2 linked regions of the Homo sapiens genome follow. The gene in region 2 interacts genetically with the main gene of each other region. Each region holds a gene or a part of one and is shown on either strand. Other genes may lie near its edges.

Region 1 (4,690 bases), on a different chromosome or scaffold from region 2:
GATCACTCTGGCTGCTGTGTTTAGAACAGAAAGGTGGATGCAGGAAGCGCAGTTTTCTTTCATAGAAGCAATCTCTAAATAACTATTCAACAAGTATGAAACTCTTACATATGAATACATAGAATAATCCCACAAGCTCAGGATAATGTAACAATTGCCAAGAAGGAAATAAATGCACAATGAAGGAATCCTAAAAAACAGTCAGATGAGTTCAATGATTGCCTTCCTAGGCTTTCCACCTCTGATGGATCTTCTACACCAATTCTGGTGATATTCTCTCCTCCTACTCCCATTTAAAGGTGCCAGTCTTTACTGAGCATGTCCTTTGTACCAGGCCCTGTATAAGTGGGTTTGAGGACACAAGGGAGAAAAACACCGAGGAGTGTGACAAACACCTGCTGCCCTGGGCAGTCTTTCTAAACCAGCATGTCTTTCCCCCAGTTAGAATCCTTCAGTGGTACACCCCAGGTATTTAGGCTAAAGTCCACAATGCTTAGTACAAAGTTAAACGCTTTCAGCCAGGTCTCAACTAGTTTTCCTAGGTTTGTTATCTAGAAATGTGTTCCAGCCATTTGGAGCTACCTGTAATTCTTAGAATGAGTCATTCTGTGCCGTATCTCAATGCTTTTGCACATCCTGTGCTTGCCTCCAACTACTATTCATTTAAAATCAAATGGAAGCCCCAGTTCCCACAGAAGGCCTCCCGTGACATCAACAAGGACAGGCCACTTATGTACCATAATTTCATTATTTACTTACTCATCTCTCTAGACCCCCAGGAGCTCTTGAGAAACAAAAACGCTTTTTTTTTTTTTTTTAACAATTTTTGTATTTTCAGGAACTAGCATAAAATTGATACATTCATCCACTCCCATATTTATAAAATATGTACTATACACTGAGGTCTATTCTAGGTTTTAAGGACACAATGATAAATAAGGCACAATCCTGACCCTTATTCTGCTCAGAGTTTGAGAGATATAGACAAACAGGAAACTTCAATAACCTATCCTGATGGGCTACAGTAGGATTCGGGGTGCTGTGCAGCTTATGGGAATGGCGCAGGGGTTAGGGAAGCCTTTCTGGAGGAAGTGGCCTCTCTTGAAGAATGAGTAGGAGATACACAGTTGTTCAATGAATGCCTGTTCCCCTAGCCTCACGCCCTTCAGGGGACAAAATTAAAGGACTGACTGAGGCCCTGAAAGCTAGGGGTAGAAAGCTGAAGGCAGATCACCCCTGCTGATCTGGGGAGGCAGCTGGAGGTTGTGAGGAGGCTCCTCGACGTGGCAGCTGTTCCATCACTGCCACAAAGTTCCTCCAAAGTCAACATGGGCAGGGGACAAAGGTTCTCAAACCAGGCTCTTGCCCTGCTCCCCAAATTGAAAACAAAGTTGAATGACAGGCTTTTCTCAAGTTTTTCTCCCATTAATCCAACTCTCTCAGACCTCTGCTGCCTCTTACATATCTAGATCAGAATCTAGTAATTGATTGGGCATAACTATATTTAGCTATAAGTATAGTCATCCACTCACGTATTTATTAACCATGTACTATATACACTGAGGTCTGTTCTAGGTTTTGGGCCACAACAATAAGTAAGGTACAATCCTGACCCTTATTCTACTCTGAGTTTGAGAGATACAGACAAACAATTAAACAGGAAATTTCAATAAACTATCCTGATGGGCTACAGCAGGATTCAGGGTGCTGTGCAGCACATGGGAATGGTGCAGAGGTTAAGGAAGCCTTCCTGGAGGAAGTGGCCTCTATGGAAGAGTAAGCTTAACTATACTTCAATAACATACTTAGCTATTTTGAATCTAATATGTTGAGATTTTACTATAATCTGTAAAAATCATACTGACACCATACGCTGGGCCTCCTCAACACATTTGAGGACTACTGGACTGAGAAAGCAGCACAGTTTCTATCAGAATCCTGGCTGTGTTGCCCCAAGTCTGTGAACTTGGGCAAGTTACTTAATCTTTCTGGCCTCAGTTTCTTTACCTGCAGGAAAGGAAATTGACAGATTTATCTTGCAAAATTGTTCAGTGAAGAGTAAATGAGGTACAAGAAAAGATTAAATAATGCAGCAGGGAGTAAAACTTTCTTTTCTATATTCCTCTCCTTTCCCAGTTAAGTCTGGGTATTTTCTTCATGCAATGACCTTTTCAGTGCTGCTCTGAATTTTCACCCATGGGCAGACACTGGACAAGGTCTGCATGGTATGACTTACCAAAACCCCGTATCTGCCCTTTATTTAAGTTTGGGTCCCCCAGAAGCAGATTCTGAAGCTCTGACTTCAAGTAGTTTATTTGGGAAGTGATGCCAGGAAGCACTAGAAAGAGTGGAGAAGACAGAGGTGGAAGGGAAGAAAGCCAACCTGGAGTAGGCTAATAGGCAGGTTATCCCTATGGGCAATTGGGGTTCAAATCTTCTGGGGACTCCAGTAAACCATCTAGAAACTACCCCAGAGCTGTCTCAACCAAGGGCACGAGTGCTGGGGTATTAATCCATCAATTGCTGTTGGTCACTATTTGGGGACTCCCCAGTATTCCTGCCCAGAGAAAGCCCTCAGGCATGGAATCTCATCTACACGTAGGCAAAAGCTTTGGCATGTAAGGGAATGGGGGGCTTCAAGGGGCTATAGATAGGGCACCAACAGAAATTATGGCTGGGGAAAGGAAATTAGAAAAGCTTGCTATGAAGTACAGGGCAGGAGAAATAAATTAACAAACTTGGTGCTTTCTATTAGGAAGACATAAGAAATCAGGACCAATTAAAAGAGCAGTAGCAGCCAGGTAATTAAAGTGCTAGAGGAAAATCTGGCATAGTGATGAATGCAGAGGTCAGTAGACCTAACCAATGAAGACTGCATGTGAGACTCCAAAGTCTGGAGGACTTTGTGTTGCAACTTCCATCTTTGCCTTCCCAACTCCTCCAGATTTCAGCTTAAATGGCACCTGCTCAAAGAAGCATTCCCACCCAGGATACCACCACAGGCCCCATGCCCAGATTTGCACATCCATTACCTAACAATGCCTGGCACATAACAGGACTCTATAAATATTTGCCAAATGTATTTATTAGCCCTCTTCATTCAAATGGTGAATGTGCTAATTCTTTATTAGTGTGAATGGCTAACCCTTATTAACCAATTAACGACTATGTGCACAGCACTGTTGGCATATGGAGGGGATGAGGCTGAAGACAAAAACCCAGAGCAGAAGGGAATGTCCTCTATCAGTATAGCTGTAGTCTCTGGGAGATGGGGGCTGGGGCTTCAAGAAAACATGCAACTATGATAAAAGAGACAAGGTCACACAATCAGTAAGTGGCAGAGGGGGAATTTAAACTCAGGTCTGATTTCAAATCATGCCCTTTCCATCCTAGTGGGTTCTAATATTCTATGCTCTCCTCTGTTGTAAGTACAAATTTTGAAAAGGTGAGAATTAAACCCGGACTTGCTATGGAAACAGAAATCAATCAGGGCTAGGGAGTGAGTGGAGGAGGAGAGAGAAAATAAAACAAAGATGCTATCAATGGGTTCACCACCAAATGGAAGGAGCAAGGTCCTAGAAAACACACATACTCAGCTAGCAGCCAAGTACCCAGTGCTCTTACTCAGCTGACCACAGAATGACACTAATCCTAGGGGCCCCGGGTGGGGGTACCACAGCCTGATATGGGCTGCTGTCCCAGCAGATGGGGCAGAAGTTTGTCTTTAATAGCTGCTCTAGCAATAGGCATCCAGGCTGTGATATGCTTAATCTAATTTTCCTTGCCATATTTAATTCTCAAAACATTAGCCATCTGTTTCCTGAATTCATGATGAAACTGCTGCCTGGTCTGTTTGCAGAGAGCGGAAGGAAAAATCCAGAGGTCTTTTCTCCACTTGTCTCTGCTAAATCCAGCAAGGCTGTAGCTGCATACCAGACCCACATTAAAAGACATAATTACTGAGCCCAAGGTCTCCAGTCTTCAATGACATGGACGGCAGTTAAATATACTTCAGGGCCAGGAAAGGGCAAAAACTGGGCCAAACCAGCAAACCTACTACAATCACCCTCACCTACCACTGTTTCCAATTATTTCTCAGGTGCAAACCCAGTTTCCCACTTCTGTAACCTTATCACATCTCATGCTTCCTGAAATTCTCTGGGAAGAGGGCCTTGTTGGAGAGTTTTCTATGCATTCCATCTTTGCAGTGTAGGTAACTCATCTTACTTGACATATTTATTTCTCAGAATATCACTCCACTCATTTATTTCTCAGAACATCACTCCACTCCACTCAGATTCAAGCTGAAAATCCAAAGTAATGCTAATCATAATCAAACTTTTGACTTAAAAAATTGCTGCTCTTTAAGCATAATCAGATTATACTTGCAGAAATGTATACTGAGGACCTGGTACTCATACTTGTTTTTGTGTGTGTGTGCATTTCTTTCAGGGAGTTGGGGGGTGCTCACCTCAGAATTGCTTTTGCTGGCTTGTTTTAAGTAGCAATACCCCATGCTTTCTTTCTGGGGAACTACAAACAGATTGTGCCATCCCAGATGAGTTCTCCTTCCTCTTCCCACAAACCATAAATAATACATTTGAGGCCATGTTGGCTTTGGGTGTTTTTGTTTTTTTGGCTAAGGTGGGCAAAACTGAAAAAAACAAAACACAGCCAAACTTAACAAGGA
Region 2 (5,881 bases):
GCAGGAGCCAGTTGTTCCCTCAGCCTCCTAAAAGCGATGGGGAGTTGAGGCCAGTGGAATGCAGCTTTGGATTCAGAAGCCAGAAAACAACAGAGATTGTTTGTGGGAAGTGAGTCAGAGAGATTAGACCTCTCTTCAACATCTGACTAGACTCTAGAATGGCATTAAGCAAGTCACTGAACCGCTCAGAGCCTCTGTTTCCTTATCACTAAAAGTTAGGACAATTCTTGCAATGAAATGAGATACTACTACCAAGTACTTCAGTGCTGTGCCCAGCACAGAACGAATACACTCAGTATGTTTTTCTTTTGTTTCTTCTGTCTCTCCAGCACCCAAAGCAGAAACAGTATGGGCAGAGAGACGCCTACTGAATCAGGTGTTTATCAGTATTATGAAATACAGTATATAAAACCCAGCATTTGGAGTCCAGAACAAATTCAAATTCTGGCTCAGTCACTAAGTAGCTATGTGGTCTTGGGCAACTGGCTTACATTTTGGTAATTCTCTCAATATGCAAAAATATTCTCTCGGCCAGGTGCGGTGGCTCACGCCTGTAATCCCAGCACTTTGGGAGGCAGAGGCGGGCGGATCACTTGAAGTCAGGAGTTTGAGACCAGCCTGGCCAACATGGCGAAACCCTGTCTCTACTAAAAATACAAAAATTAGCCAAGCATGGTCATGCATGCCTGTAGTCCCATCTATTTGGGAGGCTGAGGCAGGAGAATCACTTGAACCCAGGAGGTGGAGGTTGCAGTGAGCCGAGATCGAACCACTGCACTCCAGCTTGGGTGACAGAGCCAGACTCTGTCTCAAAAAAAAAAAAAAAAAAAAAAGAAAAGGAAAAAAAACTCCTGGCAGACATGAGAGCAAAATCGAGTACGAAATGGGCAGCTGGGACCTCATATCTACTGAATAATTGTCTGTTTGGAGGTTGAGACATGACTGGGGAGGCCTGGCCTGCCCCTGTGTTAGGTGATGGGGCTGGCCCACCCAGGGGTGTGGCAGCAGGGCTGGCCCCTGTGTGACTTGTGATAACCCCACCCTACCAAGGAGGAAGACTGGATAAAATGGGCCCCTGAGATGGCTGAAGGCAGCTAAAGGGGCCTAAGAGACTATGGGGAGAAGGGCAGCCAGTTCCTAGGCAGCCCTGCCCCACTGTTTCTGATAAGCAGGAGGCAGTTGTTCCCTCAGCCTCCTGAAAGCAATGAGGAGTTGAGGCCACGGGAATGCAGCTTTGGATTCCAGAAGCCAAGGACCTGTTACAAAGGTGGTTTTCTGGGAAGCAAATTAGAGGGATTAGACCTGGCTTCGACATCTGACTTGACTCCAACCTACCAAAGGATCTCCCAGTTCACCTGGGAGTTAACACACCAGGGTTCTAGTCCTTTTGCTCGCTGTGTGGCTTTGGGTAAGTCCTTGCCCCTCTCTGGACCTTGAGGTCCCATTCATACAAAAAGCAGTTGGACTCAGGCCTGCCAGCCCCCATTTTTGTGGCTCTTCCCCGCCCCTCCCCATCCTTTGGCTATGGGATAGTCTCCCAGGCACCTCCAAAAGGAAGTGTCTAAAACAGAGCTCTCCACCTCCTCTCCAAGCCCAGCTCCCCACTGCCCTCTTCCTGCCCTGTCCCTGTCTCCGCTGCCCTTTAGATCAGGCAGGCAGGCAGGCCTAGAGCATCCGCCCTGAGACACTGCCTGTTGGCTGCCTTAAGACGCCCCTTCCTTCTCTGCCCGCAGCCTCCCCAGCCTCTGCATTCCTCTGCTTCCTGTCTGCTCTGCTCAGCCTGCAGGATTGATCTTCCCAAAGCCAGGTGTCAACCAGGCCACTAACCCTACCCACTGCTCAGAAATCTTCCCACAGCCTCAGCCTGGCCCCCTCTTATCCATCCCCTCCATACACACTTGCCTCAGCTCCTCAAAACAGTCCACAGCCATCCTCCTTCCCCACCTTTGCCCCTTTCTTCCCTTCCTAAGGAAATATTGGCCCCCTTCTCTCCACCAGGCTGAACCCACTCATCCTGCAAAACCAAGTTCAACGCCCTGTCATTTTCTTTTTTTTTTTTTTTTTTGAGATGGAGTCTCACACTGTCGCCCAGGCTAGAGTGCAATGGGTGCACTCTCGGCTCACTGCAACCTCTGCCTCCTAGGTTCAATCGATTCTTCTGCCTCAGCCTCCAGAGGAACTCTGACTACAGGTGCACACCACCACACCCAGCTAATTTTTGTATTTTTATTTTTATTTCTATTTATTTATTTATTGTGAGATGGAGTTTCTCTCTTGTTGCCCATGCTGGAGTGCAATGGCACGATCTCGGCTCATTGCAACCTCCGCCTCCCAAGTTCAAAGGATTCTCCTATCTCAGCTTCTGAAGTAGCTGGGATTACAGGCATGTGCCACCACACCCGGCTAATTTTTTTTTATTTTTAGTAGAGATGGGGTTTCACCATGTTGGTCAGGCTGGTCTCAAACTCCTGACCTCAAGTGATCCACCCACCTCGGCCTCCCAAAGTGCTGGGATTACAGGCGTGAGCCACCGTGCCTGGCCTAATTTTTGTATTTTTAGTAGAGACGGAGTTTCACCACATTGGCCAGCCTGGTCTCAAACTCCAGACCTCAAGTGATCCACCCGCCTCAGCCTCCCAAAGTGCTGGGGTTACAGGTGTGAGCCACTACGCCTGGCGCCTGTCTTCTTCTAATATGCCTCTTCTGACCTCCTCACTCCCATTGGAGCCATGGCTCACTTCTGGTCAGGCTCCATGCACTCAATCAGCCCTGCCTGCCAGGACTGTAGTGCCCACTTGATGAGAAATCACCTGTGAAAATGCCAGGCATGGTCTGGCACACAGTAGGTGCTCAAGAAACAAATGTTAATGCCCCAGCTTCCTTCTGTCTTGTGTCCACTAATTTGGCATTTGGAGCATATTTTTGTACTTCACGTAATTAAATATTTACTGTGTGCCAAGGTCAGTGTGTGACAGAGCACTGTAGGGGAGGCAAAAATGAACCAACTCTGGACCTTGCCCTGCAGAAGCTCTGTCTACTGGCATGAGGTAAGACAGGTCCACAGATAACTTACATAAGAGAGACTGCAATCTGGACAAGACAGCCTCAGTGGGAGAGGGAAGGAGAACCCTGTAGATTTGGGTGCGGGGAGGCTGTGGGGAGAGCACAGCCTTTCAGGTAAAGGGACAAGGTTAGGAAAGCAAGAAGGTGTAGCTTGTGCTCGTGGAGCCCAGGAAACTCCTTGGGCTAGAAAAGATTTGGTGGCACTCTATACAGTGTATGTGTCTGTCTGTCTATCTAACATGAATGGTACTATTTTCTCCTATTGGTGTGCATTGTACCTAACAAAAAATCCATGTCCCAAGTACTTTTCTCTTTTCTTTCTTTCTTTTTTTTTTTGGAATGAAGTCTTGCTCTGTCGCCCAGGCTGGAGTGAAGTGGCGCTATCTCGGCTTACTGCAACCTCCTCCTCCTGGATTCAAGCAGTTCTCCTGCCTCAGCCTCCCCAGTAGCTGGGATTACAGGCACGCACCACCACGCCCAGCTAATTTTTTTTGTATTTTTAGTAGAGGTGGGGTTTAACTGTGTTGGCCAGGCTGGTCTCGAACTCCTGACCTCAAGTGATCTGCCCATCTCAGCCTCCCAAAGTGCTGAGATTATAGGTGTGAGCCGCCATGCCCGGCCAACAGTACTTTTCTCTAGAGGTAGAATTGCAGGGGATTTTTCTCTTTTTGCTTATCTGCACTTTTCTAAAAGTTCTGCCATGAACACGGGCATTTTTTGTGGAATAAACAAAGTTTAAATGTTGGCTAGATCAGTGCTTCTTTATGCATAAGGAAGGATTAGTTCTTTTTTTTCTATTTCCAATTTATTGATTCTTTGATAAAATGCAATGCAATAAAATTATTATTTTTTTTTAGAGACGTCTCCCTCTCTCACCCAGGCTGGAGTGCAGTGGTGCAATCATAGCTTACTGCAACCTTGAACTCCTGGGCTCAAGCGATCCTCTTGCTTTAGCCTCCTGAGTAGCTGGGACTACAGGTGTGGACCACCACACCTGGCTGATTTTTAAACTTTTTGTAGATACAGGGTCTCGCCATGTTGCCCAGGCTGGTCTCGAACTCTTGGGCTCAAGCCATCCTGCCACCTCAGCCTCCCAAAGTGCCGGGATTACAGGCGTGAGCCACCATGCCCAGCTAGAAAATTACTTTTTTGGCTAGGCACCGTGGCTCACGCCTGTAATCCCGGCACTTTGGGAGGCTGAGGCAGGCAGATTGCTTGAGCCCAGGAGTTCGAGACCATCCTGGGAAGCATGGCAAGACCTCCATCTCTACAAAAAATTCGAAAATTAGCTGGATGTTGTGGTGCACACCTGCAGTCCCAGCTACTTGGGAGGCTGAGTTGGGAGAAACAGTTGAGCCCGGGAGGTCAAGGCTGCAGTGAGTCGAGATTGCACCACTGCACTCCAGCCTGGGCGACAGAGACCCTGTGTGAAAAAAAAAAAAAGAAGAGAATTTTTTTTAAACAGTCATTGCTTGCTCAGATGTTTACTTTAAAAGATAATAATGAACAAGAAGCAGTCACATAAAATACAAGCCCAAATTTTATATCATTAGATTCTGATTGTCATGAAAGTTTCTAAAGACTTACTTTCATTTCTCAACTTACCTTGTTGACCAGCAGGGATTGGTGAACCATGCTGTGAGTAGCATTGGGCTAGAGAGAGGGGAGGCAGGAATCTAGAAGAGCTGTTTTCCAGATGTGACCATCTCCTGAGGACAGGGACCATGTCTCATGTGCCACCCATCACCCCCCACAGACAGAGCCTGCAGCCAATGCCCCAGGAGCCCTCGGTTCCAACCAACTGATGCCCCTGTGCCCACTGGCCCACGCCATGCAGCCCCAGTCCGTTCTGCACAGCGGCTACTTCCACCCACTACTTCGGGCCTGGCAGACAGCCACCACCACCCTCAATGCCTCCAACCTCATCTACCCCATCTTTGTCACGTGAGTCTCCAAGAATGGGCCAGGCCTCTGCTCTGCTGGTTGGGGTTGGGGTTGGGGAGGGAGTGTTGACTGGAGCGGGCATCAGTATGGCTGGGGGTGGCAAAGTGAGCTGTCAGCTTGAAATTCAAGGCACTGGAAGCAGGCTACTTGGATTAAGGACAGGAATCTTAGGAACAAAACAAACTTTGAAAGAACTCATTCATCCCATTTGGAAAATTAGAAGAATAACCCTTGCCTGCCATCCTGAGCTCTTGCAGTAAGACAGAAGCTGAGAAGGTGCTCTGTACATTGTAAAGTGCTATGTACCTGTAAGAGATGGCAGTCATTGAGGCTGGGCACGGTGGCTCACGCCTGTAATCCCAGCACTTTGGGAGGCTGAGGCAGGCGGATCACGAGGTCAGGAGATCGAGACCATCCTGGCTAATATGGTGAAACCCTGTCTCTACTAAAAACACAAAGAAATTAGCCAGGCGTGGTGGCGGGTGCCTGTAGTCCCAGCTACTTGGGAGGCTGAGGCAGGAGAATGGCGTGAACCCGGGAGGCGGAGCTTGCAGTGAGCCGAGATTGCACCACTTCACTCCAGCCTGGGCGACGGAGCCAGACTCCATCTCAAAAAAAAAAAAAAAAAAAAGAGATGGCAATCGTGATTGTTAATAATAATGCAGACATTTACTGAGTACTTACTATCTACCAGGTACTATGCTAAGCACCTACACACATTATCTCATTCAATTCTGAGAGCATTTGTATGAAGAAGGAGTAGCTATCCTCTAGAACATCAGCTCCATGAGGGCAGGGATGTTTGTCTATTTTGTTCACTGTTGTATCATCAGGGCCTAGAACAGTACTTGGCACATAATAAGTACTCAATAAA

What was found.
Region 1: changes in ALAD (region 2) and SKP2 together harm fitness less than expected from each alone (positive genetic interaction), as found in Homo sapiens cells (one large-scale study listed by BioGRID).

Annotation. Positions count from the first base shown.
Region 1 is NC_000005.10:36,157,421-36,162,110, reverse strand, and holds part of SKP2 (S-phase kinase-associated protein 2), read right to left. Parts: intron 1-4,690. UniProt on the Homo sapiens protein: Substrate recognition component of a SCF (SKP1-CUL1-F-box protein) E3 ubiquitin-protein ligase complex which mediates the ubiquitination and subsequent proteasomal degradation of target proteins involved in cell cycle progression, signal transduction and transcription.
Region 2 is NC_000009.12:113,392,573-113,398,453, reverse strand, and holds part of ALAD (delta-aminolevulinic acid dehydratase), read left to right. Parts: exon of another isoform or gene 1-376; intron 377-1,179; exon of another isoform or gene 1,180-1,408; intron 1,409-1,998; exon of another isoform or gene 1,999-2,996; coding exon of another isoform or gene 2,997-3,047; intron 3,048-4,816; exon of another isoform or gene 4,817-4,819; coding exon of another isoform or gene 4,820-4,894; coding exon 4,895-5,007; intron 5,008-5,881.